Linked DNA regions of Homo sapiens. The protein of the gene in region 5 purifies or fractionates together with the protein of the main gene of each other region. This does not show direct contact. Each region holds a gene or a part of one and is shown on either strand. Other genes may lie near its edges. The genes, in order: TVP23C, GALNT2, SLC27A2, GOLIM4, BZW2, PTPRK and ABCB10.

Evidence for each region.
Region 1: the proteins of BZW2 (region 5) and TVP23C purify together in Homo sapiens (affinity purification with mass spectrometry, with the first as the bait; 2 studies listed by BioGRID). This does not show direct contact.
Region 2: the proteins of BZW2 (region 5) and GALNT2 purify together in Homo sapiens (co-immunoprecipitation; one large-scale study listed by IntAct). This does not show direct contact.
Region 3: the proteins of BZW2 (region 5) and SLC27A2 purify together in Homo sapiens (affinity purification with mass spectrometry; 2 studies listed by BioGRID and IntAct, with this or other methods). This does not show direct contact.
Region 4: the proteins of BZW2 (region 5) and GOLIM4 purify together in Homo sapiens (co-immunoprecipitation; one large-scale study listed by IntAct). This does not show direct contact.
Region 6: the proteins of BZW2 (region 5) and PTPRK purify together in Homo sapiens (co-immunoprecipitation; one large-scale study listed by IntAct). This does not show direct contact.
Region 7: the proteins of BZW2 (region 5) and ABCB10 purify together in Homo sapiens (co-immunoprecipitation; one large-scale study listed by IntAct). This does not show direct contact.

What each region holds. Positions count from the first base shown.
Region 1 is NC_000017.11:15,536,164-15,540,062, forward strand, and holds the end of TVP23C (Golgi apparatus membrane protein TVP23 homolog C), read right to left. Parts: 3' UTR 817-3,899; downstream 1-816.
Region 2 is NC_000001.11:230,248,270-230,252,664, forward strand, and holds part of GALNT2 (polypeptide N-acetylgalactosaminyltransferase 2 precursor), read left to right. Parts: intron 1-914; coding exon 915-1,002; intron 1,003-2,187; coding exon 2,188-2,291; intron 2,292-4,395. UniProt on the Homo sapiens protein: Catalyzes the initial reaction in O-linked oligosaccharide biosynthesis, the transfer of an N-acetyl-D-galactosamine residue to a serine or threonine residue on the protein receptor.
Region 3 is NC_000015.10:50,188,180-50,192,574, reverse strand, and holds part of SLC27A2 (long-chain fatty acid transport protein 2), read right to left. Parts: intron 1-4,395. UniProt on the Homo sapiens protein: Mediates the import of long-chain fatty acids (LCFA) into the cell by facilitating their transport across cell membranes, playing an important role in hepatic fatty acid uptake.
Region 4 is NC_000003.12:168,089,212-168,093,606, reverse strand, and holds part of GOLIM4 (Golgi integral membrane protein 4), read left to right. Parts: intron 1-4,395. UniProt on the Homo sapiens protein: Plays a role in endosome to Golgi protein trafficking; mediates protein transport along the late endosome-bypass pathway from the early endosome to the Golgi.
Region 5 is NC_000007.14:16,687,470-16,691,864, forward strand, and holds part of BZW2 (eIF5-mimic protein 1), read left to right. Parts: intron 1-2,327; coding exon 2,328-2,437; intron 2,438-4,395. UniProt on the Homo sapiens protein: Translation initiation regulator which represses non-AUG initiated translation and repeat-associated non-AUG (RAN) initiated translation by acting as a competitive inhibitor of eukaryotic translation initiation factor 5 (EIF5) function.
Region 6 is NC_000006.12:127,974,400-127,978,794, forward strand, and holds part of PTPRK (receptor-type tyrosine-protein phosphatase kappa isoform b precursor), read right to left. Parts: intron 2,656-4,395; coding exon 2,524-2,655; intron 2,384-2,523; coding exon 2,258-2,383; intron 1-2,257. UniProt on the Homo sapiens protein: Regulation of processes involving cell contact and adhesion such as growth control, tumor invasion, and metastasis. Negative regulator of EGFR signaling pathway. Forms complexes with beta-catenin and gamma-catenin/plakoglobin.
Region 7 is NC_000001.11:229,545,014-229,549,408, forward strand, and holds part of ABCB10 (ATP-binding cassette sub-family B member 10, mitochondrial), read right to left. Parts: coding exon 4,221-4,395; intron 2,689-4,220; coding exon 2,486-2,688; intron 1-2,485.

The DNA.
Region 1 (3,899 bases), on a different chromosome or scaffold from region 5:
TGGGTGACAAGAGCAAAAACTCTGTTTCAAAAAAAAAAATTCAGACAAGTAGTTCAGGGCTACTATACCCACAAGATGGGATTCAGACAGTATCTACCTCATTTCTCTGCCATTCACAAAACGAAGCCTTTATCACATAGTCCAAGATGGCTGCTCTAGTTTCTGCTATTGTGTCTACCTTTCAGGAAAAAGGGGGAAGGGATGGGCGTGCCTCCTCCTTTTAAGGATACTTCCTGGAAGTGTATCCATTGGCCCAAACTTGGTGGTGTGGCCACACCAAGATACAGCAATAAAATCTAGGAAAAGTTTTATCTTTATTCCAGGATGCCATTCCCTAGCTAATTAGGTGGGAAATCTGTAGAAGGAGAAAAACGAATATTAGGGAATACAGGGTAGCTCCTACCACATGCATATTCTAAAATTCATTGTTACTTGGTTTAGGATGCAGTTCAAATAACACAGTTACCTAAAGAACTACACCAATGTATCCTTTGTTAGACTCTCAACCCTAAAGATTTAGGTTAGATCTTTCAGATTGTATTTTAAAATGTCTTTAGTGCAGTATCAATTCTCACCAGACAGAACAGCTAAGTAAAATAAACAAGCTCTTAACAAATTATTAATTTTTAAGAAAGGAAAGGGCATTTAGAGCAAATATTTTCTCTAAAAAATACTAATATATCATGTTTTATATCCTACAGATATTCCTGCAATCTGTTTTCCTTGGGAAAGTCACTCATTAACCTGAAGTTCAGTTATATCATCTAAAGTATTACATATTTATCATGAGGGTTACATGAGATTACACATGTCAAATGCCTTGTAAATAGTAGAATTTTATACAAATATAAAGTTTTGCACCTTCAAAGCTATCACTCCAATAAGACACTTATTCAATTAAACAAATAATCTTAAAAACTATTTTAACAATGTACAAATATATTCACAACATAATCTGCTGATTAAGACTTCAACAAAGTTTATAATACCTACAACAGAATTTACAGATGCCTACAATAGTTTGTAGATTGGTTTAATTTACAGTTACATAGATTGCTTTAAGAAATACCATTAATACAAATGCATAATTTACAATATCCCCATTATAGCAAGAAAAAAATAGATTCAGAAAATAAAATGTCTTTTAGGCATTTATTATGCCAAGTATGTAAATTATTATTCTCATTATGACATGAGAATAATGCTCTTTTAGTGGTAAAAGATCTATTAGCTCAAGGTCCACTGAAGAACTTTCAATCTAGCTATCCTTTCTGTAAAATAAATAGAATAGCAGCAATCTCTGGGTATTCCTTAAACTATGATGATTCCACTTATATTAACTGGGCCTTAAGTAGATAACTTCTTACAAACAAAAATAAAATTTTATAAAGTAGTTAATACCACTGGCCCTAATTGTTTTCACTTGCTTGCATACGTCTAAGAAATTTCCCCATGAAGTACATATTAAAAACTAACAATTATTTCTAACTTATACATAAGCCAAAGTGCTCACTCTTACCATAGAAGCAAAACTTTCTCCTGAAAACAATCTACAGAAATAATATGTAAACATATAGAGCTTTGAGACAGACTAAGAACATCCTCCTATGTTCTATGGATCAAAATGCAAAGGTCTCCATTATCTGTGTAAATGAACACTTTCATTAACTTGGGATATACAGGTATTACATGGCCGTGTGCATACCTATGGAATGTGCATACCTACACCACAGAACAAATCTTAACAATGTTTCTAGTGCCAACATATACTTTCTAGCCCCAACTGCTGGAAAGGAAATAAAAACTTAATATGAAAACTACTTTTCCTTTTTATAAATAAAGTTTTTAAGTGGAAAAACAAAGCCAACACTCCTCGTTGCAACATGGACTAAGCTCTAAAAGGTTGAGTCAAGAATCTCTTCAGTTGTTCCCCAATGTAACAAAGCACATAAGCTTTCTCTATTCAGGAAGTCTGATCATCTCCAGTGTTCCGCAAAAGACAAAAAAAGAACTCCTTAACATCAAAGTTATTTCACTTCACACACCATGGACTTGGGGCCTAGGCCTAGGAAAACATTCTATATTTCTAAGCAGAGCATTACCTTACATACAATGGCCCAATCACATTAAAAAGTAGACATGCTAGGCTGGGCGCCGTGGCTTACACCTGTAATCCCAGCACTTTGGGAGGCCGAGGAGGGTGGATCATGAGGTCAGGAGATCGAGACCCTCCTGGCTAACACAGTGAAACCCCGTCTCTACTAAAAATACAAAAAATTAGCCAGGCGTGGTGGCGGGCGCCTGCAATCCCAGCTACTCGGGAGGCTGAGGCAGAAGAATAGTATGAACCCGGGAGGTGGAGTTTGCAGTGAGCCGAGATCGCGCCACTGCACTCCAGCCTGGGCAAACAGAGTGAGACTCTGTCTCAAAAAAAATAAATAAATAAAAAAGTAGACATGCGCTAATGAAGTAAATCCATGGATACCATCATCCACCCAGCTGTCCAGTTTGTCTCATTTGAGCAGACGCCGGATACCATGTAAGACACTAACCCTATCCATGTTATGCCAGGTTTAAGGTTTAATTTCACCTGTATTCCATGTTCCTCCCCACCTTCAGAAACACTGAAAATTCTAACGAAAAAAACCTAATAAGCACATACATGAAAGTTACCCTAAGGTGGACCACAGTAAAGGTATATTGGAGCCATGCAAAAATCCTTCAGAATGAGATGATCATGTCCCTACATGAATATTCATTTTCTCTACTTTTCATCTTCTGTGAGAGAAACTGTACAGTAGAATAAAAAGAACAATAAATTTTGAGTACAGAGGGCTGGGTTTAAGATCTAGCTTTGTACCACTATTAGCTGTATAATCTTAAGTAAATAATTTAATTTCTCGGGGCTTTAGTTATCTAAAATGTAATCCCTGGACCAGTGCCCTCAGTACCACCCAGAAACTTGGGAGAAATGCAAATTATGAGACTCCACCCCCAGATCTACTGAATAAGGAGTCTGGAGGTGGAACCCAGCAATCTTGTGCCCTCTAGGTGATTCTCATGTATGTTCGAGTTTAAGAATCCCTGTCCTACATAATATCACTTGCCCAACCTACTGTACTAACCAAATGCAAGGTATTACTCATATAAAGACCTAGTCACGGCCAGGCGCCGTGGCTCACGCCTGTAATCCCAGCACTTTGGGAGGCGGAGGCAGGCGGATCACGAGGTCAGGAGATCGAGACCATCCTGGCTAACACGGTGAAACCCCGTCTCTACTAAAAATACAAAAAAGCCAGGCGTGGTGGCGGCGCCTGTAGTCCCAGCTACTCGGGAGGCTGATGCAGGAGAATGGCGTGAACCCGGGAGGCGGAGCTTGCAGTAAGCCGAGATCACGCCACTGCACTCCAGCCTGGGCGACAGAGCAAGACTCCATCTCAAGAAAAAAAAAAAAAAAGACCTAGTCACTTTTCCCAAGAGATTTAACCAATAATTATTTACCTATGACTACTACTCATCCTGCTGAAAACCCTGATGTTGAGGTATTATAGTAAAATCCTTATGTTCTAGGGGGAAAAAAACATCTGAGTACAAATGTTATGGTCTTCTTGTGATTCAACTGTTCTCCCTAAAACCATACAACATACAGGCTGGGCACGGTGGCTCACGCCTGTAATCCCAGCACTTTGGGAGGCTGAGGTGGGCAGATCACAAGGTCATGAGATGGAGACCATCCTGGCTAACATGATGAAATCCCATCTCTACTGAAAATACAAAAAATTAGCTGGGCGTGGTGGCATGCGCCTGTAATCCCAGCTACTCATAAGGCTGAGGCAGGAGAATCACATGAACCCGGGGGGCAGAGGTTGCAGTGAGCCGAGATTGCACCACTGCACTCC
Region 2 (4,395 bases), on a different chromosome or scaffold from region 5:
CTGTTGACAAAAAGCCTGATGGCAGAGAGCTTAAGAGGATTGAAAGATGCATGCCCTAGAGTCATTAGGTTTTGCTGTCAGACCCTTGGAATTGGAAATGCAGCACCATGAGCCATGTGTTTGCCAAGAAGTGGCCTCCTGATGCACCAGGACAGCTTCCGCAGGTGGAGCCTGCTGGCCTCCAAGAGGCACTATGTGTGTGACCCTGGGAGCAAGAGCGAGACCTGAGGCCCTGCAGATGCCCACAACCAAGTCCGGGTACAGGGTCTAGGCTCTTCTATCCTCAGGGGTCTGTGGATTCCAAAAATGAAATGCAACAGGTGCCAAATATATCTGAAATTGAAGCTTATTTGCCCAGCTTGGCAACTTCCGCTGGCTCATTTTCCCTTAAAGTTTTCATATTCCCAGCATGTTCCCACTCCATTCTTGCTGCAAATACAGTCTGAAGTTTGCTGGCCCAGGGAACTGACAAAGCCTCGTTCCCTCCCCAGCATTGCCTTCCCCTGGGGCAGTGTTGGAGGTACCACGGCTTGATTTTCATGTTGGATGCTCTTTTTCCTCACATCCTTACAGCCCTTGGACATGCCCTGGTTATCACCACACAGACCCCAGTTCTCTCCCCATATTTCATTTTTTCCTATGCATTTCAATATTAGAAAAGCCTGACTCACATTTTCTTTAGGGAGGGGCAGGGAGAAGATTTCAACATTCACCCTCACTGCCGGTCTCTCTCTTCAGCTACACCCACGCCCCCAGTCCCCTTCTCTCTCCTCCACACCTTCTTTTTTGGCTTTGTTTTGGTTTTCATTGAGTTCTGTCCAAACATCGAATATTTTTAAGCTGTGAGGAATGGGGGTGTCGGGAGGAAGTGGCCAGTCTCTTGTCAACACCCTGTTTCTTTTCCTGGCTGGCAGGTTTTGATTGGAACTTGGTATTCAAGTGGGATTACATGACGCCTGAGCAGAGAAGGTCCCGGCAGGGGAACCCAGTCGCCCCTATAAAGTAAGTGCCAGCATCCTTCAGGGTGCCCCTCCCAGATGAGACCCCAGGTTCCAGCTTCTTTGCTGGGCCCGCACCGCCTGGAGACCCAGTGGGGGCTGTTCACCTTCTGCCCTCCGGTTTCCCCTCGTCTCAGCTCAAAGATGAGCACCTTCCACCAGGTCATAGAATAAAATCCTTGGAGATTTCTTTTCCACAGTTGAAGTCTCACATAGGTTTATAAGGCCTATCTGCTAGGTCTGTGCATTCCTGTATGTTGATAATGTAGAGCGTTTCTGTAGCAGAGCAGGATCTCCGAGCTGACCCCAGGCCCAGGAAAAGGGGCTTGGTGGGCAGCAGGAGGCTTACTGCTGCTACTGCCCAGCAGGCCTTTGCTCTCCTGCAGAGGAAGGAGCCCATGCTCATGAAGCCCATGCTTTTAAGATTCCCAGGCCGGGCGGTGGGCTTTCTGGTTGAGAGTCAGGATGCCTTCTCTAGCTGGGGAGAGAAGGGGGCCACCTCTTCCAAGTTGGCACACGGTTAAGTGAGATAGCATTCACAGAGTACTTAGCGCTGAAATATATTTGCTGACATTTAGCCAACATCTGCAGTGTGCCATAGACCTTCCCAGCACTTTACACTGAATTCGCACAGCATCGCTTCTGGGAACAAAGTAGGGAGCTCAGTGTACATCTGTTGTCAACCCCTTCCTGGGATGATGAAGTGAGGAGCATGGTGGGTTCCCTTGTAGGAGGTGGAGTCTCATCTATGATAGTGATAATGAGAGCTGGTGCTGTGGAGCATTTCCTAAGCGTGCTCAGGGCTTTATGCCCATGATTTTTTGCAATCCTCGTAGCTACCCTATAAGGAAACTGACACACAGAAAGGCCGAGTTCTTTGCCTATGGCAGCATGTCAGTGAGTAGTGATCCAGCCCCAGCAGTCGCTCCCACATAGGGGAGGCTCAGTCCAGCCCCTGGCACTGTGGGAACATCCAGGCAGGGACAGTGGGGGAGGCATTTGAAGGCAGCAGTGGTGAAGCAGAGAGAGTGGCATGCTGGGCACTGAGCAGAAAACAGTGGCAGTGTGGCTGTTCTGAAGATCAGCTTATTGTTAGGGAATCAAGGCTTGGCCTTGGCGCAAGGGTGCTGGCAATCTAACCTTGACTTTGCCCTCTCCTCCCTCCCCCCTCTTCTTTCTGCCTCTTTAGAACCCCCATGATTGCTGGTGGGCTGTTTGTGATGGATAAGTTCTATTTTGAAGAACTGGGGAAGTACGACATGATGATGGATGTGTGGGGAGGAGAGAACCTAGGTATGTACAAGCCTCAAATCTCAGGACAGAGAAGTGCCTCAGCTCTGCAAAAGGCAGGGTGCCAATTGGAAAAAAAATTTAAAAGGCTTCAGAGTGACCATTCACTGGGCTTAATCGATCCTTGCAAACACATATGTAACACCCCTTTTGCTCTTGAAAGTCTCATGAGTTGGGCATTAAAATGTGCCTCCCTAGGTTAGAGTGGAGGATGCCAGAATACGGATAAAGTCTTTGAAGGGAAATGCAAACTCTTTCAAGGCGTCTGAACCCAAGTGTTTGGAATGTTGCAGGCTTGCAAAAACAGAGGGAAACAGTCCAGGAGCTCAGATTCATGCTGAGTGGTGGAGAGTGGAAAATGAACCCCGGCGAGGCTGGTGGGATTGATTGAATTGAAATCATGAAAATCCGATGGGGCAGGGAGGCCTTGGCACTTAATCCCTTCTCGACTACCTTTGCGAATGGTTCTCATTTGTTTTTCTGTTTGTTTGTTTTTTTGTTTTTAAATACCCCATGCAAATTATTTTTACCCAGGTTTAGGCACAGCAAAATTTTGCACATTGTGGTCTATATTGGTAGCCTTATATTTACTGCATAAAAGATGAAAAGATGTGTTTTGTTTGTTTAGGGTTTGGAGTGGGGGAGATCTTTTTTGCTTGTTTCAATTAAAGCCTTTTGTTTCAAATGCTTGACATTCTGAGCGAATTCTCCTGGGCTGCTGAGTGTTGTTAACTTACATTCGTCCTTGGGTGAGTGTACCCTGGAGGACAGGGGAGAAGGAAAGGGGAAAATGAGGCCACTCATTTTTAATAGTTTTGAGACTTTGAAAGTTTTTGTTACTTTAAAAGAAAAGACTAGCCTAGCCTATTATTTTTCCATTGTTTTATGATGTTGAAGTCAGTGATACCATCTCATCTTTGAGGATTTCTCTGCCTTGGTTTGATGTTGAAAGCTTCTTTAGGCTCGATTACTATACTGCACGGGTGGAGAGACCGTGAGTCAAACTCCTTTTGGGTTGTTTTAAAAAAATGATACATTAACCTCTAGGGAAAGCTTGGATTGAAGTCACTTGAGTACAAAAGGCTTCAGAATTGTTAACCCTCTAAAGAGAGTTCTGTCACCCTGTTCCATGGGTATCCCCTAATGGTTTAGTGGAAATCCAGCAGGCCAGGGTCGCCCAGTAGGGCAGCGTATCGTGTAGGTGGCCATTTCTCAAAAACAGTGTGGTTTTCAGAAGTTTGCATACTATTAGCTGAAATGAGACATCAGCCAGCATTTTGTGTCATCGTGTAGGAAGAGTGTTGATTTACATATCTAAGGAGGCATTCACCCAGAGACTGGGGGGTAGATTTGTTGTAAGGAGCTGCTTTATTGTGGTTTGGTGTTTGTATTTATTATGTAGCTGTGCTAGAAGGTTCTAGGGTCTGAGCGGTTCAGGTTGGGGTGAAGATGAACCCTGCAAGCAGGAGCACATCTCTGCCCAGGAAGGCTGGGGCATCTGTCCCTCCGTGAGGGGCTCTCCTGGGTTATGCCAAGGACTTGGACTCCCAGTGAGGTTTGGAGGGCTCAAGAGCTTCACGTGAGAAGGCCATGCCGTGAGCCTTTCTCCTTAGCACTGCTCTAGCTTCTGCTTCTGGGGGCCGTGCACACTACTAGCCATTGCCAACCTGAGGGGCCTCTGTGGGTGTGCATTGGGAGAGGTGTATGGTGCAGAGAGGCCCGAGTAAGATCCAAAACCACCTCCTCAACGTGTGCCCCGCTGGAATGACCAGAGCTTCCCATTTTCCTAATCATGTAAGTCCTTATGTCATTTAAGCAATTAAAATGGAGGACCAAGAACCTAACCCTTAACTCTAACAATGGGGGTAAGGCTCCTTGGGGGCATCATCTGTGTTTCTCTACATCCCTGTCATGCAAGGATGATGCTAAGTACTTCCAGGGAATCATCTGTTTGTGCTTTCTTAACGGAGTGTGGTCTGCAGAGGTCATGACACCTTGCCCAGGGTCTCAGAACCAAGATGTAAACACTAACTGCCTAATTAAAAAGCCATTGAGTTTTACTGAGTAATTATCCTCAAAGTTATAGGGTTCAAATGAAATCAACGCT
Region 3 (4,395 bases), on a different chromosome or scaffold from region 5:
GGACCCTGTCTCAAAAAAAAAATTTAAAAAAAAAGAAAAATGTACTCAGGTATTAGCATGAAAAATTAATAATAAAAGGAAATGTAATTAAGCTGGTGTCATGCTTGATCACAGTCCAAGCAACTTCACCTCATGTGTACTTCATTCATGTTCCCAGCTGGCCCTCTGCAGGCATGTAGTTTGTGATTCCTGACCTTTTATGCAAGTCATCTAATCTGAAGGGAGGGCCATTGCCCCTGCCCTACACCATCTCCTTCCATCTCCTCTAGGCTGTTGGTGTAGATTTGTTATTTGGGCAGACTTGAGTTTCCAGCGGCTTGCCAACCATATCTGGACACACTATGGAAGCCTTTCTTCCCTTAAAGATGTAGAAAGAAAAAAGAAATTTGAAAGGAAATTCTGGATGTGAATCTACCTGTCAACTATCTAGTTGATATTTAATGTCTTTTATTTTCTTGAGTCTTTTGTAGATATGTTTGGGCCTACATATTTTCTTTTTTCTTTTTTTTTTTTTTGAGATGGAGTCTCACTCTGTCATCCAGGCTGGAGTGCAATGGCGTGATCTCAACTCACTGCAATCTCTGCCTCCTGGGTTCAAGCGGCTCTCCTGCCTCAGCCTCCCGAGTAGCTGGGATTACAGGCGGCTGTCACCATGCCCGGCTAATGTTTGTATTTTTAGTAGAGATGGGGTTTCACCAATTTGGCCAGGCTGGTCTTGAACTCCCAACCTCAAGTGATCCGCCCACCTTGGCCTCCCAAAGTGTTGGGATTACAGGCATGAGCCACTGCCTGGTTGGCCTACATATTTTCTAATGCAAGCATAAAATATCTATCTACCTTTTATAATTTTTATTGTAAAGTCTGCTCATCTATCAATCAGAACATGTAAGCTCCTATAATTCTATTTGTCAAGGTTGGGTTCTCTGAGACTCCGAGATGTGCATGCAGGAGTGCTCTTGGGAATGGGACCTGTGAGGCTGCAAGGGAAGCAGACTGGATAGAGGGAGACATTGAACTGTAATGCAGTCACAACAGAAGTCTCCCTCAGCAGATCCTCTAATCCTAAGGGGACTCTGGACCTGGGATGCCCTTCAGAGTTACCTCCTAAATTAAGGGAGGTAGGCTGTGCCTTCACACCTGCCCATTGACCAGTCCAATGGACTCAGGCTGGGGTGGTGGTGCTTAACCTTGGGCAAAGTGTCTCTCTTCAACCAAGGAGAAGTCCTGGGAGAGGTCTCAGCTGAGAGCTCCCAGCAGCTGAAGAGTGAGTCCGTCAGTCCTAAAGCAGGGATCTGGGTGGCACATCAGAGCATGCACCCACCTCTCTCTTTACTAATAACAAACATTTAAAATTTTCATTTGCATAGAACTGTTGGTATAGTTTTACATACATCACTTCACATAATTTTCATAACAACTCTGTGATATAGATACCAGTAATCTTATTTCTACAAATGAGAAGAGGCTCACCAAGTCAGTGTATGGAGGGTCACATGCAAAATGAAAAGAATCATTCTGGGCTTCTGAGGTTCCCACCTCCTTGTATGAGCCATTCAGATTAAGTTCTAGCAAAGTGCCTTATTTCTTGGAAGAGGCTGGCTGCTTGGCCTTCTGCTCAGTGCTTGTTCAATCATGTGGATCTGCATTTAATGAGTAACATGGATGATCTTTTCTTGAAGAGCAAAACCTCAAGCTTTATTAAAAGTTTGAGTATGAGAAACAGTGGTCACAGAAAGTTGCCTGAAGGGTGTAGAGCAGCTCCATCAGTCGGTTCTTCATCAGTCTAGTTTTAAGTTGTAGACTGAAATAAACCCACAGAGAAAGAGCACACACTTGGGTGTTGAAAAATCAAGTGATTACAACACTACTCCCCCATCCCCTTTAAAGTCTGTTCAAAGAAAATTTTAAAAAATTAAGGTAGCATATTAAGTCTGCCCCTGCCTTTTTTTTTTTTTTTAAGGAAAAAGGAAGAATTTTCTGAATAAACAAGTCCATTGCTAGAAGGCAGAGAGATTGGGTAGGTGGTGAGCTGAATCAATCTTCATTACTAAGGTGTCAGGTGCTCAGGCTAAACCTGCAGCTTTCCAATAGGAAAACATTCAGTCTAGTAGCTTGTTCTGCTACTAGACTGCCTCAGTGAATGAGTAACTGACTGGATTAAACAAAACACCCCAGAAATATTTACCAAGAAGGTAAGGTCCAAAAGGAAGGTAGTGAAAGGAAATGTACTCTGATCATGAAATGGTTGGTTGATGAGCAAGTCAAGCTTGAAGATTTATCTCTTTTCTTCATTCAGAAAAGCAACTGAAATGCAAACTGGTGCTATTAATAACATAGTCCTTGAAGACAACCTAAAAATAGTTCCTAAAATGCCATTTGTAACTGTAATTTTGCATCTCAATCATTGGCAGTTTGGAATGACAGTATTTTGTACAGCAAGATGATGCACATTATAATACTATATATAGAGAGAGAGACATGCATGTGCTCCTCCTTCTTCCCCACACAAATCACCCGGAGGTCATAAAAATGTTTAAGTTCCACCAGGAGTAAGCAAAAATTTAACAAGGAAATACATACTCATTTTACATTTAGGTAATTAAGTAGTAATCTCCTTGATGTTAATTTTTATTTCTCCAAGTTAAAGTTCTTGCTTATATGAACTCTTGCTTTCTAAATAGCCCTGGAATCAAAGGTAATTCCTTATCATGAGTTACCAGGTCACATAAGGCCTTACATAATTGTTAGCATTTGATATCTGTAAGCAACCATGTCATCTTTCTACCAATGATCTACTTCCCTTTTCTCAGAGGCTGTGGGAAGGTCCTTTTCAAATACTAGCACCTATTATATAGAATAATCTGAACTCTATCCTTCTCTTTCAGATTCAATAACAACACCTGATTCAGAGTTTGTTTTTACCTCTTCAGTCCCTGTTTCTGAAGAAAATAAAGTGCATTCCCATATATGCCAGCAAAGTGCTAGTTTTGTTCTTGGATGGAGATGTACAATCACCTCCTTTGCAAGCTTTAGTTAAGAGCAGGGAGAGAAGAAAAATCTTAGAGAATATCTTTAAGCTATCTTTCCTTGGGCTACTAGGCTGGGAATCCCAGCCCTTGGATATATTAATCATTTGGTGTCTGGGTTTCTGTCCTTGTACAGGGTCCTCCACCACCCTACTCACAGGTCCTTTCCAGCCCATCCTGTGCTCACCACCTGCTTACTTGCTGCACTGAGACCCAAGGAGAGCACCGCTGTCCTACCATGTACTGCCAGAGAGCTGGACAGAGTCATTGATTAGGAGGACCTTTGAGAGGTAAGTAAGCCTGTGGTAGGGTAAGGCTGGGCCTGGGGTAGATTGAGTTTAAATGGATTTTTTCACATCTGATTTTGTTACATCATTTTTCAGGCCCTCATGCCCAACCCAGTGGTCCTTAAGCTTCAGGAGAGAAAGCCTGTCACAATCAACCAGAATAATGGAACCCATTAATTCAACAGACATTATCTATCCATTATGTATGTATGTATGTATGTATGTTTGTATGCATCTATCTATCTATCTATCTATCTATCTATCTATCTATCTATCTATTTATCTATCTATCTATCTACCTATCTAGACAGTCTCACTCTGTCATCCCGGCTGGAATGCAGTAGTGTGATCTTGGCTCACTGCAACCTCCACCTCCCAGGTTCAAGTGATTCTTGTGCCTCAGCCTCCGGAGTAGCTGGGATTACGGATGCCCGCCACCATGCCCGACTAATTTTTGTATTTTTAATAGAGACAGGGTTTCGCCATGTTGGCCAGGCTGGTCTCCAACTCCTGAACTCAGGTGATCTGCCCATCTTGGCCTCCCAAAGTGTTGGGATTACAGGCATGAGCCACCGTGCCCTGCCCAACAGACACTTATTGACTGCCTGCCTACTATGTGCTAGACATTACTAGGGAATTATTCAAAGATATATGAGAGAATTCTAAGCCTTTGAGACAAAGTGCATTGAAACAACTCATTTAAGTTACTCCTTGGGCAGTCCAAAGAGTTGGGAAGAGTGTAGATTAGATTATTTCTGTGCCTTGATTCTGGACTAAAGTTGGCATTAGAAAATTAAATATTTCCTTCTGTGGAAGTGAGGCCACTGCTGTTGGCCATTCTTTGGACTCTCTGAGTCCCTATTTTTTCCATTTCCTGTCCCTTCAGGAAACAGCTTAAAAAAATGACTATTATTAGGTCCAGACTGCCATTGTTCTTACATCGCAATATCCTTTAATGAAGCATCTCACTGTTTTAAGCACCTGATCAGAACTGCCTCTGGTGCTCCTTTTGCCTGGAATGCCCCCTCCCCCACTGCATTTGTTCAGCTCAATAGTCAGTGCCCCAAAAAGCCTTCTCTTGA
Region 4 (4,395 bases), on a different chromosome or scaffold from region 5:
AGTTGCTTCCCTGTGAAGTTCCATGGAGTCAGACCAAGGGAAAAATTTACCGTCTAATAGTATAACAGGACTAGATTTTCATAAACATGGCTGGAAGGGGCATGTATGGTGGATTATATGAGGTTGTGTGTGCCTTGGTCTCTTAGGAGTCCCATGAGGGCAAAGGCTGTCATTTTCACCATTACCTCCTCAGCACCACACTGTGCCTGACACTCATTAGGGGAATCAATGCATGTTTATTCAAACAACAAACAAAAATTATTCTGAACTGTGGCGAGTAAGTTCATCCCAGGCACTTTTGTCTTTCTGAGACTTTGCTTCTGTGTCTTTGCTTTTTGAAAGCCAAATAAAACAAGAAAATATTTTGTTCAAGTAGCTCCTTTGCCTCAACGGCCTATGATGGACGATGGATATTGTTGACTGAGGCCCTAATTTCTGAATAATGGCCTTTATTTGCAGTATTTCATTTTGAAATTTTAGAAATTTCTTTTCTAATTTGCCTTTTCTTTTTTTAGTGGTGGTGGTGGTAGTGGGGAAGAGAGGTGGTAAATGGTAATACAGGATCATTAAAATATACAACTTTTGTTTTGCAGCAGATGGAAATGTTCTACCTAATTTGAATAAGTGGCTTCAAAGTCCCTTTCTTAATTTATTCTTTTGTCATTTCCTCTCTAATTATGGTGCTACAAAACTTGCAGTATAATTGTGCATGAATAATTATTTCACAAGCAGGCTAAAGTATTTTTTTGTTTGTTTTTGTTTTTTGTGGATTCACTTTTGACTTCAGTAGCATTTATTTTGGATTTCCCATGTGTAAGCCATTTAATGTACATTTTCTGGTGGTATGCAACTTTTGCTTCCCTTTTCCAAGACAAATGACATTTTACTCAACAGCACTGTGTACCACCTGCATAGATGGGCTTTTAGGACATCAGGCTCTCCAGTCTTAATACTTGTTTAGTTAGGTGGGATTGCTTGACCTGGCTTGGATTAAGATCAGAATTAATGACTTTAAAAAGAGTGGTCTTTTTAAAAATGACTCTTGAAAAAATTTCAGTAGTTTAGACCTATAATCTGATGATGTGCGTTCGTTAAGTGAGCGTATTTAGGTCACCTTCAGTTTAAGAATAGATTATACTCCATAGATTCCTTTGAAAGTGGGTTACTTGTAACCCCAAGTTAACAAGTTTTATTGTAGAAGAGCCCCATAACTAGAAGATGGTGGGGATGGCATGCAGAAAGGTCAGAGACTAGGCAAACCCCTTCCACTATAAAAATATCTATGTCTGCCTGTTTATCTATCCCTCTTAGCAATCAGTCATCTATTTATCTCCCATACTGGCACCTTAATTATACTGAGGAGTGGGACAGAGGTCACATACTGGTGGCAAAGGTAATAACAATCTTTGGCCAGCACAGTGTTTATATAACCTTTAAAGTTTTTAAACTGCTTTCAAGTGAGCCATGCTCCATTGTCTGTATCTATAGGCAGTGTTTCTCAGTCTAGACTGCCCATTAGTATCACCTGGTGGCTCCCAGACCAATTAAATAACAGTCTATGGGGGGTGGAACCCAGGCTTCAAAAGTCTTTAAAGCTCCCCTGGTGATTCCTGTGTGCAGCCAAGGTTGAGAGCCACACCTCTATAAAAAATCTTAAAACTGAGCCTTTCCGTGCATTTACTTTACTTGTTTGGCCCCAGAGACACTTGAATTTTTTATCTGAGTATGTGATTAAAAGCAGACTGGTTTCTAGACTGTAATTCAGTTCTAGTTCTACAACCTTTTGTGTGAACCTTGACGTTTTTCTTATTTATAAAGTGGAGATTAGAATAACCTATTTTATAGAGGTATTGTGAGGATTAATGAAGATGATAGACTGTAGAGCTCTTAGCACATACTTGGCATATAGTAGGTACTGCTCGTTAAAAGTTAGCTGTTATCAGAATCCCTCTTTGAGGTAAGCTGCTTTATCCCTTTTACTCTTGCCAGGTTTGTCATGGGTAATTTCAAATTTTGAAATTGGCAGAATTTGTTTATGTAGCTAACCACCTCCTTTTATTGTACCTTAAATGAACATCAAGGAATATGCAAACATCCAGTGTACTTTAATCAGAAGAAAGGACCTTCCTTGACAATTTAAACTTGGACTGCGGTTACTGATTAACTCTGTTCTGGATCATATCAGATTAGGAGAGGGTGTGACTGCTAAGGTAATAATTATGTGCTGTGAGATCTGGGAGAGAGATATAACTATTTAAATTTTTATAAAAGGCATTTAGTGTAGAGGCAAAGAGCCTGACATTCCTAAAACACAGTATTGCAATGCTTTTGGACTTCCAGGGATAAGGAGAAACCATCCAGAAAAAGTTTATGTAAGGTTTATATGTTCCTATTCCAGATGAATATGTTACAACTATTTAAAATTTTAAAAAAAGGTCACAAATGTGACGTGTAGAAGTGCAGAGTTACAAGTGTGGATTTCTCACATGCATATATTGAGTTGTGGTGAAGTCTGGGCTTTCAGTGCACCCAAAGAATGGACATGTTTACCCCACAGGAAAATTTCCAACTCTCACCCCCTGCTAGCCTCCCACCTTTTGTAGTCTCCACTTCCACTCTCTATGTCCATGTGTGCCCGTTGTATAGCTCCCACTTGTAAATGAGAACATGCTATCTTCGACTTTTCTTTTTCTGAGTTATTTCCCTTAGGATAATGGCCTCCAGGTCCATCCATGTTGCTGCAAAAGACATGATTTCATTCCTTGTTACGGCTGAGTAGTATTCCATGGTGTATATATACCACATTTTCTTTACCAGTTCTCTGTTGATGGACGCTTAGGTTGATTCCATATCTTTGCTGTTGTGAATAGTGCTGCAATAAACATACAAGTGCAGGTATCTTTTTTGTATAATTATTTATTTCCCTTTGGGTATATACCTAGTATTGGGATTGCTGGAGTGAATGGTAGCTCTATTTTTAGTTCTTTGAGAAATCCTGATACTGTTTTCCAGAAAGGTTGTGCTAGTTTACATTCCTACCAACAGTGTATAAGCATTCCCGTTTCTTTGCATGTTTGCCAACATTTGTTGTTTTTTGACTTTTTAATAAAAGCCGTTCTGACTAGTGTAAGATGGTATCTCACTGTGATTTTAACTTGCATTTCTCTCATGCTTAGTGATGTTGAGCATTTTTTCCTATGTGTGTTGTCTTCTTGTCTAGCTTCCTGTTAAAAATGTCTTTTCATGTCCTCTGCTCAGTTTTTAATTTTTTTTTTTCTTGTCAAGCTGCTTGAGTTCCTTGTAGCTTCTGGATATTAGCCCTTTATCAGGTGCATACTTTGCAGATATTTTTTCCTATTTTGTAGGCTGTTTACTGTGTTGTTTCTTTCGGTGTGCAGACATTTGTTATTTAAGTGTTTTTTGCATTGGGCTCCTCTAACACTCAGGATGGCCCACTGGCCTAAGCATGAATACATCTTGTCATTGGTTACTTCTTTGCTTTCAACCTTCCCTAAATCTACTTTTAGAAAGGAAACATTGGCCAGGCACCCTGTCTCTCGCCTGTAATCCCAGCACTTTGGGAGACTGAGGCGGGTGGATCACTTGAGATCAGGAGTTTGAGACCAGCCTGGCCAACATGGCTAAACCTCATCTCTACTAAAAATACAAAAATTAGCCAGGTGTGGTGGCACATGCTTATAATCCCAGCTACTCAGGAGGCTGAGGCATGAGAATTGCTTGAACCTGGGAGACAGAGGTTGCAGTGAGCCCAGTCACCCCCCTGCACTCCAGCCTGGGCAACAGAGCGAGACTCTGTCTCAAAAAAAAAAAAAAAAAGAGAGAAACATCTTCAGCACAGAACCAGGCTTTTTTTATTCCTTCATCTCCAGCGTCTGGTGCCTGGTAGTACCTATGTAGTACTTTTTCTTGGCCTATTAATGTGCATATATATGGTGGTATTGTGCGCAGTGAGGTATAATAGATACAGGCTGAGGCGTCAGAGCACTTGGATTTGATTTTCTGCTATCTTATTTTGCTAGCTGTGTGGTCATGGGCAAGTTATTTAACCTTTCTGTGACTCAATCTATTCATATGTAATAATCAGGATAATAGTGCTTACAAAAGGTTATCTTGAGAATCAATAGTGTTAGCTGATGTGCAGTGCTTAGAAGGGTGTAGCTTGCATTTTGGATGATTGAGGAAACATATACAACAGAGTGGTTCATAGACCTCAGCAATTTAGACCACAAGTGTGGGCAATGTGTGGTAGGTGTACTAATTTTCAAGTGCAGCGTTAGAACTTAAAACATGAACTAGACATTGTCTATTAAATGGACATCTTCACTGAAGTACAACTTAGAGTTAAATGAAGAGACTATCATTTTTGCTTGATCC
Region 5 (4,395 bases):
ACTTTGGGAAGCTGAGGTAAAAAAATTGCTTGAGGCCAGGAGTTTGAGACCAGTCTGGGAAACAAAGCAAGACTCTCTTCTCTACAAAAAAAAATTTAAAAACTAGCCAGGTGTGTTGGCACACCTGTACAATCCCAGCTGCTCAGGAGACTAAGGCAAGAGGATTGCTTGAGCCCAGGAGTTTGGGGCTACAGTGAGCTATAATCACATCATCTTACTACAGCCTGGGCAACAGAGAAAGACTATCTAAAATAAAAAAAAAGAAATAAAGAAAATGGTTAAGAAATTAATCATTTTCCCCAGCTCATCCAATAAATGACCAAGGGAGATGGGATTATCCTACTCAGAGGAGTAACTATAAAGAAAGTTAAATCTCAGTTTTAGGCTCCTAGTTTCAAGCGTAGTTTTTCTTTACGATACAGATTACAGCCTAGTGTTAATTTATATTAAATTTTATATTGGTTTTATGAGCTAATGATAATGCTAAAAATTCATCTTAAGTTGTTTAACATGAACTTTCAGTTAAGGTGTAATGCATGTTTTGTTGTTATAGCCGTTTTTGTTTTTTTTTTAACTTAGTTTCTTTGCTTATTCAAGGGAAGAAAATCAGGTTTAGTTGGTGTCTATATGAATGATAGACCAATTAAATGCTTTTACTTTCCAGTTGCTGGAAGACCTGGGTCAAATTGGTATATAAGGACATGGATTTCTTATGTAACAATAAATAGAAAATTAGGACAGACCTCAGGCTGAACAGCAGTATCATTCAGGACTTAAGTATTTTTCTCCTGTTATCATTCATAGCATTAACTTCATCCCAAGGATGGTGCCCCCTCTAGTTGTTATAAGATGCCTGCTGACACAGTTATGGCATATTCTTCCTGGTTCAGGTTCAGTGGAAGAACACTTCTCCTGAACAGAGGATAATTTATCTTTCCTTCAGCTGATTGGCTGACACAGGCTGCATGACTAGTGCAGGTCCAGTAGCAATTGCCAGGGGCGTGCCTTGGGCAGATGAGCTTAAGCGAGGTCACTAAATTAATCATCAGAAAGGGGTGGTACCAGGACTTAGACTAATCAGTAGTCACCTGGACTGGATAAAAGGGGACCTCTTTTAGGAAGGAGGTAAAGAGAATAGAGGCTGCTTAGGCCACATTATCATTAGCTCATAACAATAGTAGAACCTTCAGTTTAGAAAAATCAGTTAAATGTTTCAGTTACATCTTAACTCTTCATTAAATAACCGCAACATAAATTTAGAAATTTGAAGTGTTCATAGAACTGTCTTCTTGTTATCTGATTATTTCTATTTGGAAATAAGTGGTAATGTAAATGTGGACATGTGATTAAATGGTTTCCTGATTTAACATAACTAGCTTAATAATGATTTTTTTTTAAATCCAGAAGAGTTTAACTTGAAACAGCCTTGGTATTTTTATAGCTTAACTCAAGAATATTTTAAAATGCTTTTTATGGCTGCGTGCAATGGCTCATGCCTGCAATCCCAGCAATTTGGGAGGCCAAGGCAGGTGGATCACCTGAGGTCAAGCGTTCAGGACTAGCCTGCCCAACATGGCGAAACCCTGTCTCTACTAAAAATACAAAAATTAGCTGGGTGTGGTGGTGCATGCCTGTAATCCCAGCTACTTGGGAGGCTGAGGCAGGAGAATCACTTGAACCCAGGAGGTGAAGATTGCAGTGAGCCGAGATCGTGCTACTTCACTCCAGCCTGGGCGACAGAGTGAGACTCCATCCCCCCAAAAATAAAAATAAAAATAAATAAATAAAATGCTTTTTATAAAAAGCAAAACTAAGGTAAATGATATGTGTTCATCTATTCGTAGCAATACTTATTGTATCTATCACTATCAGTGTTCTTGTACTGGCATCCTTTATTAGCAAATTACTTGATAAAGGTGACATTACAGTTTTGTGTCTCCTAATTTACTTTCTTGTGCCTCAAGATCACTGTTATAAAGATGAAATACATATGAACCAGAGGGTGAAATAAAGGCAATAACACCAAAGATACTGGGTGTGAAATATGTTTTTGACCAAGGTAAAATAAAATAAACTTGCAGTTAGACCAGGTTGGATTCAAGGAGTCCAAATTTGAAAAATATTTTAATTTATTTTCCTTTTCCTGAAAATGTTCTAGTTTGAGTAATGAGAAGAGGAGAATTTGCCTAGAGGTCTATTGACTTTTCATTTGTACCAAAATTAGTCTTTTAGTTATTTACACATTTCAGGAAACCTGGTTGCTTTGCACACCATCACAATTGGTTTTGCTCGTAAAAGGAATGAAATTCTCTTTTGTTTTTCAACAGGCATTGCGGCCTCATTTGCTGTCAAGCTTTTCAAAGCATGGATGGCAGAAAAAGATGCCAACTCTGTTACCTCGTCTTTGAGAAAAGCCAACTTAGACAAGAGGCTGCTTGTAAGTGTTTTCTGGTTAAAGAGTTGTATGTATGATGCCTTTCTTGGAGCTTAAGCAATGCCTGCAATGTAGTATATGAGTAAGATCCCTGGATCTGTGTTGACTTGGAGCACTGTTCCTTTTATTTCTGTGTAATTGGTAGTAGAAGCTAATTTCATTTTAATCTTTATTTTGTGAACAAATGGCACAATAAAATTAAAGAATTGTGAAGAATATAGACTTCCAAATTTGTAAGTTTGTTGACATAGTATTAACATTTCATCAGAATTAAGACTTTGTTTTATAGCCATAACTTTTTTACTTTTTTTTTTTTTGAGACAGAGTCTGGCTCTGTCACCCAGGCTGGAGTGCAATGGCACAATCTCGCTCACTGCAACCTCTGCCTCCGGAGTTCAAACAATTCTCCTGCCTCAGCCTCCCGAGTAGGTGGGATTACAGGTGCTCTCCACCACACCCAGCTAATTTTTGGATTTTTTTTAATAGAGACGGGGTTTCACCATGTTGGCCAGGTTAGTCTTGAACTCCTGACCTCAAGTAATCCGCCCACCTCAGCCTCCCAAAGTGCTGGGATTATAGGCGTGAGCCACCACACTCAGCCTATAATCATAACTTTCTAGACATTTTAAGGTTTTAATATGATAAAAATTTCATCAATCTCACTTAATCAAATACTTGTGATGTCTGTCTTGAGTAGCAGTCAGACTGTGCTAATCTCAAATGTGTGTTAAATAGTTTGCTAACAAAATAAAAGTTTAAACAAGATTTCCCTGGAAATACTTAAGCTGTTGCAGAAATTAAACAAGTTAATTGTGTCACAATTGCTTGATTATATTTTTATTTCTCCATCTTTGTGTTTTTCTAAGAAAATCCAGAAAAATATTTTGTTCTTGTAATTTCTATCTGCTCCCTACAATTTCTTTCTTCTTGATGCAGCAGCTGTGAAATGCCAAGATTTCTCCAGGTGGAATTGCTTTTACAGTTCTAGGATGAAGTGTAAAAATAAGACACAGCGCTGCCATCTCTTCACCTGGCCTGTTCTCTGTTGTTCTCTTCCAATGTGTTTCAGTGTGCAAGGGTCCAGTCCCATGAGATAATTCTAAGACTATCTCTTTTCCTCAAGAACACATGAAAGTAATTTTAAATGTAAATACTTGCAATTTAAATCACTTAAGAATACTTTGTTTCTTGAAGTTTACCTTAAATAGATTTGTGTGTTTAAAGTTTTTAGATTATGGTAAAAAAGGTACAGAAGTCTAGATTCTAGTTCATAATAATTTTCATTCCTCATGTTTCCTGAATGTCTACCCTGTGCTGGGCATGGTACCACAAGCTGCAGAGCCAGTAGAGAACAGGATAGAAAAGTTGCCTGCCCTCGTGAAACCTACTTTCTAGTGGACTTAGGGCAAATCCCTGTAAACAGAAGCAAAAGTCACAGAAGATAAGTGAATAGGTTGCTGAGGAAGGTGGAGGTTCATATGAAGGGAACATATTTCTTGTCCATGAGGCTGTGGGTTGTCTATAGATTAGCTCTATCTTGGCTAAGCCTGGCTTAGTTCCACATGCCTTTTCATTCGGGCACAGGCTGAGGGAGCAGCTCCCATCTGGGCCATTCTGTCTTCATGGCAAAGTACCAGAACACAGAGACTGAACTGAACGTCTCAAGTACCTTAAAAACTCACCTATGGACGCTGCCATGCCTGGCAATAGATTGGGAAAATCCAATCCACTAATAGGCTGCTTCTCCACCTCTGCAGATAGACATAGCAAGGAGGGGGTTCTCTTAATACTCTTTTGAAGAAGAGAAGGTGTATGATTGGGAACAAAGATACAATCTATCCGGTTATTTCTTAAAGCAGTAATTTTCTTAAAGATATTCACAACTATAGCCTGGTTAGCTTAATTAGATGGCTTCATTTATAAAATTCATTTTCTTTTTGGAAACACATGTCATTTAGCTG
Region 6 (4,395 bases), on a different chromosome or scaffold from region 5:
GCCTTGGGGACTTTGCATATACTGTATGTACCCTTTGCCTTGAATACTTCTTCCTTGCTTGGTCTTCTCAATCCCAAATAGAATGACCAACTTGTCCCAGGTTGGCCTGGGACTTCTCTGGTCTTAGCACTGAAGGCTGTGTGTCTTGGGAAAGCTCCTGCCCTGGGCAAACCAGGATGGTGGGTTACATCAACCCCCAACTAATTTCTATTGATTCATTAAATTTTGGCTTAAATACTACTATCGCAAAGAGGTCATCTCTGATCACACAGTTATGTCAGATCACCCAGTTAAACACTCTATATTCTTTACTCTTTCACTGTAAAATGCATCACTTTTATACAAAAAGGATTATACAATTTTCATGTAATGCTTTTCTTCCTGAAAAAAATAAAGATTCCTTAAGTACACGGAAATCTTTTTTTCCTACACTCTGTATCAGTAGAACTTTGCATAATACTTCCCCAAAAGTAGTAGTGTTGAAAGAATGAATCAAAACCTTAAACCTTGAAATAAAAATATCAGGAAGAATATGTAATATATGAGTAAATCATATCAGATTGGCAAGAGCCCATGCATCTTTTGGTAGATTACAAGCCCTACTTAGTACTCTACAAACTTGTTGGTACATGTTAAATGTTTGATGCAGTTAAATATATTAAATATATTAAATGATGAGAGTGAGAACAGAAAAAAAATCATGTACTAATAAGGACCAGAATACCAAATACAGAGGCAGTTCAATAAGTAAGCAAACAAATAAATAAATATGCTGACAAAAATATAACATTTCAGTTCCTGTTCCTAGAATATTTTTCACATAAACTGCTCAATTAACAGACAAGCCTTACTGTCTTCAGCAGTTCTGTTTTTTTCCAACTCAAATATTACTAGAACCATAATGTAACAGATGTGCAGACATAATGAGATTCCATTTAAATTAACATCTAAGATATGCATGAATATTATGAGATGATTGAAGTTATCCTTTTTTTCTCCACTGAAATGAGCAATAGGAGTCGATATGATTCCATTCCCTGCTCATAGTTATATACATATAGACTTATTAACCAGACACACACGTAGTCATTTTGATATGAGAGACACTGAAACATGATAATCCTAATCACACACTTAAAATACATACCCACAGAGCTGGTGCTTTAAAAAACAGAGTAATGTTTCTCTCTAAAAAGAGCTTAATTTCATGAAAGTTACTAATGTTTTCTTTTCCAATTCTGCTTGTTATTTGGTTACATAATCTAAATTGTTTTTATTAATATCTTTTTTTGGGGGACGAAGTCTCGCTCTATACAGCCTGGGGTGCAGTGGCGTGATCTCAGCTCACTACAACTTCTGCCTCCCGGGTTCAAATGATTCTGCTGCCTCAGCCTCCCCACTAGCTGGGACTACAGGCATGCCACCACCATGTCCAGCTAATTTTTGTATTTTTAGTAGAGATGGGGTTTCACCACGTTGCCAGGCTGGTCTTGAACTCCTGACCTTATGATCTGCCCGCCTTGGCCTCCCAAAGTGCTGGAATTACAGGCATGAGGCACTGTGCCCGGGCTTTATTAGCACTTTTTTTTTTAAGATCTTCCCCACCCACATTGAATTTGTCATGTAGTGGAAAGCAAATGAGGAGTCAGAGAAAGACGATACAGTTACTACTTTGCTGCTGGGAAAAGGCATGGTGGTAGCAGCACTGGTTCTACCTTTAGATCTGCTTAGAGCCATAGGTTGAGACGTTTAGGAAGATGAAATTGCAGGTAGGATAATCAATAATGAACTTGGAACAGTGACATGGAACCCTTCTATAATGGTTGATCCAACATGTCTCTTTCCTCCTGCAGTACAGTTTCTCTGTCATTATTGTTATTGCAATGTTCTTATTTTTTTTATCACATGCCATTTCTGGGCTGGATGTCAATACTAATAAAACATGCAGTCATCCTTAAGATAAGTCTACATACACTCAGAGGCCAGGCCTAGGCTGTCCAACTTGACTGAGCCAGTGCATCTGTATTTCCTGAGAGAATATGCTAGTCTAGTGACTGACCGAAAAACCTAGCTTCCAGCATTTCTGTTTTCCTGTATTTTTATTCGAGTACTAAGGCATAAGATGGTTACTAGCTTTGAGGTGGATGATATAGTGCTTATTAATTGTAGTCTCCCTGTTGTCTGAATAAAATTATACCACATCTTGGTTATGACTGACCTATTCTAGATCAGCTCAAAGGATCCGATAGTGACTTACTCTTGTTAGATTGCATATCCTAAAAATCCGGTTGATCACATCACAGTCCATTGAACAAGACATACATTCCACTTGGATGGGGCCATATCGTAGCATCCCTTCCTCTGGCCAGTACTGAGGGCAGCCCTAAATGATGAACGTTTTGAAAGAAAAAAAAAAAGAGTATTATTTTTTCTAGTTAGGAGAGTATAAAGCAGATTTTAGCAATTCATTACTACTCTATTAAGTTGTATATAAGTACATAAAAGCAATCCATAGCCATTAACCTGGGACAAGTCGACTTCGTTTAACATCACAATGGAGGTACAGCCATAATCATACACTAATCTCCAGAAGTCTTTTACAGTGTTTGGCAGAGGGTATTGTGTGACGATGAAAGCAGCTGGTTGCCTGTAGCTCTGTGAAGAAACAAGGTAGATGGAGAAATATAAAAACTTAAAATGTATGATCGGTTGTACAAACAGATACAATACACTTCAATGTAGGACCAGTAAGATGCAATAGCTTCATATGCAGAAGGAGCCAGAGTGATGATTAAACCATGGAATAGGAGATTCAGACCACTGGAATGAACTGAATTAGTACAGTAATGAATCAATTTGGTGGAAGACTTCAATGCTTCCAAAGCAATTCAAGTCAATAACTGAGTTTTTACTTTACTGAAAGACGTAAATACAGGACAAATACAAAAGAAGAAACTAAAAAGCTTCTGAGGTTAACATCCTCTGTAAGGTTCCTGTTGGGCTATTTCAATTTTCCAAACGTAATCAGTCTCTGAGAGGCTGAAGGCAAAGTAAGCACAAAACCCCTGGTATGTCTATCAATCATCTGGGTATGTGTATAGTGTGTGTGCGTGCAAGTAAAATTGTTTTACTCTTCTCCACTCCAAATAAGAAAAACCACAAGTAGCTCAAACACTTGTGCTTTTACATTATGTGGACACTACCAGGATATTCTGCACATCTTGCAGACAATCCACCTTCCACAGCTTCCTGGGCATTTCTAACATATATCAAAGGTCATAATGACAGTCTCAACCATTTAAGATCCTGAAGCACCAAAGCATAACAGCAATATATTTCCTGTCCCCACATAAGCGGGGAGATAGCTCCTTGTTAACCAAGTCCTCCTTGATTAGAACACAATATATTATCTCTTTCCAAAGGGAGAAGTAGTAAAAACAATATTTATCTGGACTGGACAATTGCCATTTGATTTAAACTAATTATTTGCAATAATAATAATAATAATTAGTAGATTATAGAGTTCCCTAATGCTGACAAAAATTTTCAATGATCTTGTAACTCATTTGTATCATACTACTATTTAAGTCCTTCAAGAATCTTAACATCAGCACAGGAACTGGTTCTTGGACTTCACTGATGCTACCACCATTTGGGAAATGCTACCAACCATGGCATTCAGCGTTGGCTGAAGACTGCAGGATAAATCTGAGTAGATGACAATAATAATTTACCTGGCTACTTCTAAATGACCTCAAAACCTTACCAAGTTACACGTGCAGCTGGGATGAGTGTCTCCTAAGAAAGGCAGGAAGGTTCATGAGTCATATTGTTTGGCTCTGTGTCCCCACCCAAATCTCACCTAGAATTGTAATAATCCCCACATGTCAAGGGCAGGACCAGGTGGAGATAATTGAATCATGCAGGCAGTTTCCCCCATGCTGTTCTCCAGATAGTGAGTGAGTTCTCATGACATCTGGTGGTTTTATAAGGGGCTTCCCCCTTTGCTTGGCACTCCTTCCCCTTCCTGCCACCATGAGAAGAAGGACGGGTTTGCTTCCCCTTCGGCCATAATTGCAGGGATCCTGAGGCCTCCCCAGCCCTGTGGAACTGTGAGTCAATTAAAACTCTTTCCTTTATAAATTACCCAGTCTCAGGTATGTTTTTATTAGCAGTGTGAGAATGAACTAATACAATGAGAAAAGTTAGAAGAAAGGAAGCTCTTCTTCCAATCAAATGTCTGCTCCATGCAAAGGTAAGTCAAAGCAGACTGACGGCTATCTACTCATTTTTTGAGCCACAGGGGAGGGGATATGCATGAGGAGGAGCTGATAAGAGAGGAGAAGACTGAAGACTTCCTATTCTTTTTCCCTCTAAATGCAGGAACATATGTAA
Region 7 (4,395 bases), on a different chromosome or scaffold from region 5:
TTGACCCTGGACTTCTAACCTCCAGAATTGTGAGAAATACATTTCTGTTGTTTCAGCCACCCAGTCTGTGGTATTATTATGGCATCCCAAACAGACCCCTTTGAATTGCTCATCTGACCTACACTGAATTCCCTTTCCTTGTTACAAAAAGTACCCCAAGTGATTTTTCCCAGCTTGAACTCTTCCTGATCCCCAAAACTATTCATATTTGGAAAACGGCATGTTAGTGCAGGAAGGGTCCTCTTCCAGAGGTTTGCTTCTCTCTTAGCTGGAAAATCATGAGATTTCAAAGCTGTTTTTCATTCCGTAAGTCAGATCTAATAGGCAACACACCCTTCCTCTCTAAGTGCTTCATGGGACACAAAGGACAGAATCCAAGCTTTTCCACTTGTGAGAAAGGATTATTTACAGTTCTTATTCCACGAGTCTAGAACTGCACTGCCCAAAACGATAGCCCTACTGGAAACTTGAAATGTGGCAGGTATGACTGAGACATTGACTTTTTAATTGTATTTAGGTTTAATTAAAATTTAAAAGCCTATACTCCATTCAGTTATTGGCAAACTATTAAGTATGTCTGGAAAACTTGAGTATGTCAAACTACTTTTTCAATTGTACATTTTATAAAATCTAAATATAGATCAAGTACTTTCAATGAAAATTTAGCATCCGAATTAAGATGTTCCTTAAGTAGAGAATACACACCAGATTTGGAAATTCAGTTGACCTTTGAACAACATTGGTCTGAAATGCATGGGTCAACTTATACATAGATTTTCTTCCATCTCTGCCACCCCTGAGACAGCAAGAACAACCTTTCTTCCTCCTCTCAGTCTACTCAGTGTGAAGACAATGAGGATAAATACTTTTGTGATGAGCCGGGCGCAGTGGCTCACGCCAGCAATCCCAACACTTTGGGAGGCTGAGGCAGGCAGATCACGAGGTCAGGAGTTCAAGACCAGCCTGGCCAACATAGTGAAACCCCATCTCTACTAAAAATACAAAAAAATTAGCGAGGCGTGGTGGCTGGCACCTATAATCCCAGCTACTCGGGAGGCTGAGGCAGGAGAATCACTTGAACCCGGGAGGAGGAGGTTGCAGTGAGCCAAGATCGTGCCATTGCACTTCAGCCCGGATGACAGTGCGATACTCCGTCTCAAAAAAAAAAAAAAAAAGCTTTTATGATGATCCACTTCCACTTAATAAATAATAAATATATTTTACCTTCCTTATGATTTTCTTAATACCATTTCTTTTTTCTAGCTTACTCTGTTATAAGAACATAGTATATAATACATATACCAAATACATGGTAATTGACTGTTAATGTTATCAGTAAGGCTTCTGGTCAACAGTAGGCTATTAGTAGTTGAGTTTTTAGGGAGTCAAAAGTTATACTTTGATTTTTGACTGTGTGGGCTTCAGTGTCCCAACCCCTGCATTGTTCAAGGGTCAACTATAATATGAAAGAAATAATATAAAATACCTCATTAATAATTTTGATATTAATTACATCTTGAGATGACAATATTTTGTTTATACTGGCTTAAACAAAACATTATTAAAATTAATCTCAGCCAGGTACAGTGGCTCAAGCCTGTAATCCCAGCACTTCAGGAGGCCGAGGCAGGAGGATCACTTGAGGCCAAGAGTTTGAGACCAGCCTGGGCAACATAGAGAGACCCTGCCTCTACAAAAAATATATATATATATTCTTTAAATTAGCCAGACTTGGTGGTGTGTGCCTGTAGTCCCAGATACTTGGGAGACTGAGGTGGGAGAATCACTTGAGCCCAGGAGTTTAAGACTGCAGTGAGCTATGATCTTGCCACTGTACTCCAGCCTGGGTAACAGAGTGAGACTGTCTCTAAAAAAATTAAAATTAAAAAAAAAATTAATCTCATTGGCTTCTTTTTGCTTTTTTAAATGTGGCTACTAAAACATTAAAATCACATATGTGGCTTGCATTGCCTCTCCAATGACCTGCAGCACTGGGCTGAATAGAAATACTGGTTGAAGAGGTAAGGCAAGCAGACAGGACAGGCACAAGCCACCCAGTTAAGGAAAGGAAAAAAGGCCATGGGAGTGAAGAGCTCTCCCCTTAAAAGAGCACAGTTCGACTTACACACACAGAGGAATGGAATTTAGTCACCGCTTGGTGCCACCCACAGGGTAGTACCCAGTGCTCCTTCTACCTGATGCTCTTTTCTGCCTTAATACCCCGGGTACACACATCTCAGAATACCCAGCAGTAACACATGAGTCCATTTTCCAGATAATCACTCATTCTGGAGAAATGAAGGTACAAGAGGCCATGCAGGCAGAGGCAATCCCCACGTTCCAGCAGCTTCTGCAACAGCACTTTTGGCTCTAGGCACTTACAGAATGATGCGAACCGCTCAGCTTGAGCTCGTCTCACACGTGAGAGGCCTGGTGCAAGCCAAGCCCTGGCAGGAAGGTACCAAGGGGAACCAGGCCCACATACCATCATACTGATGCCTACGGAAGCCTGGGCCCCGGCCCTGAGCCCATCTGAGAGGTTTTCAGTCACTGAGCGCCCCAGGAGTGCAGTGTCTGATGAGAGGCGGTTAATCAATTCTCCTGTGCGAGTCTTGTCAAAGAAAGCAACCTCCTGCCTCAGAATGGAGGAGAATAATGAAGTTCTCAGCCTATTCACAATGCGCTGACCTGCAAAAGCAAACACGAACAGGCTCACCAAGGGTAAAGACATCCATTACCATTATGGGGCAGCCACTTACTGTGCAGCAGCTTGGCCTGGAGTTGTAACCCTCCTGAGCAATGCAGCCTCTGAGCGTGTCTGCTGCACTGTATCCCATGGGTGGAAAGAGACTTTCCCAAACCAGGCACATTAACTGTCATGCACTACTAACACTACTTTTCTCTTATTAACTACAGACTGTGGGCGCTAGTGAGAGGATACAGGAATAAAATAAATATAACATGACTCAGAGGCCTTTTTTATTTTTACTTTTTTTTTTTTTTTAAGAGACTGGGTCTTGCTCTATCACCCAGGCCTGAATGAAGTGGCACGATCACAGTTCACTGTAACCTCAACCTTGTGGGCTCAAGCCATCCTCCCACCTCAGCCTCCTGGGTAGCTGAAACTACAGATGTCCGCCACTACACCCAGCTAACTTATTTTTATTTTTTATATAGACGGAGTCTTGCTATGTAGCTCAGGCTGGTCTCAAACTCATGGGCTCAAGCAATCCTCCTGCCTCAGCCTCCCAAAGTGCTAGGATTACAGGCATGAGCCACCACACTTGGCCGAGATTTTTTTAAGGTATTATTTACAAAGAAGTTTTATTACATTAACTTCCAAAAGCTCATTTTGTTCCTCCCTGGAAACCCTTTCCTGTATTGAACCTTCAAATGGCAAGAATTGGTTAATTATCCACAGAGATAAATGGAGAGCAACAGACTTCGAGTTGGTGTCCCAGGTTCTCTCATTATTGTGGCAGTGACCTGCCTGTAAAAACAAGACCTCTTCAGAGAAATACTAACAAAGTTATCATCCCAGCTGCTACTTAAGGAGAAACACAAGCATGGGGCATGTAAATGGGTTTCTGAAGCCTTCAGGAAGCCTCAGAAGTCCAGCTTCATGGCCAGGGGCCTCATTTTCTTTTTTTTTCTTTTTTTTTTTTTTGAGATGGAGTCTCGCTCTGTCCCCCATGCTGGAGTGCAGTGGTATGATCTGGGCTCACTGCAACCTCTGCCTCCCAGGTTCAAGCGATTCTCCTGCCTCAGCCTCCTGAGTAGCTGAGATTACAGGCACACACCACCACGCCCGGGTAATTTTTGTATTTCTAGTAGAGACGGGGTTTCACCATGTTGGCCAGGCTGGTCTCGAACTCCTGACCTCATGATCCACCTGCCTCAGCCTCCCAAAGTGCTGGGATTACAGGCATGAGCCACGGCACCCAGCCCGAGGGGCTTATTTTCAAACCTCCCATAAGACCGACATGATTGCCCTTACAGCTCAACTTCAACTATAAAAGAAGAGTTGAGAGTGCTTGATCTAAAATAATCTGTAACTCCAACATCTGGGCAGTCATTGGACTCTATCCCCACTTAATGGGATGCCAGGAAGAGAGGAAGAGAATGGAGCCTGGAGCACATGAGATTTGAGCCCGAACAAACCCACAGGACTCTACATCTTCTTCAGGATGACTCACATCCCTGAGAGGAGAGACTGTTACCTGAAGTTTGCATGAGGTAGACACGAATGGCATTGGCGGCAGCACCACACAGAAACACGGCACTGAGCCCTAGGCAGAGGCGGGTCAGGTTGTCGCTGTAGTCCACAGTGGGGTTGGTATAGATGACATCAATGATCTTCCCCAGGAAGAAAGGGGCAGACATGGAGATAACACT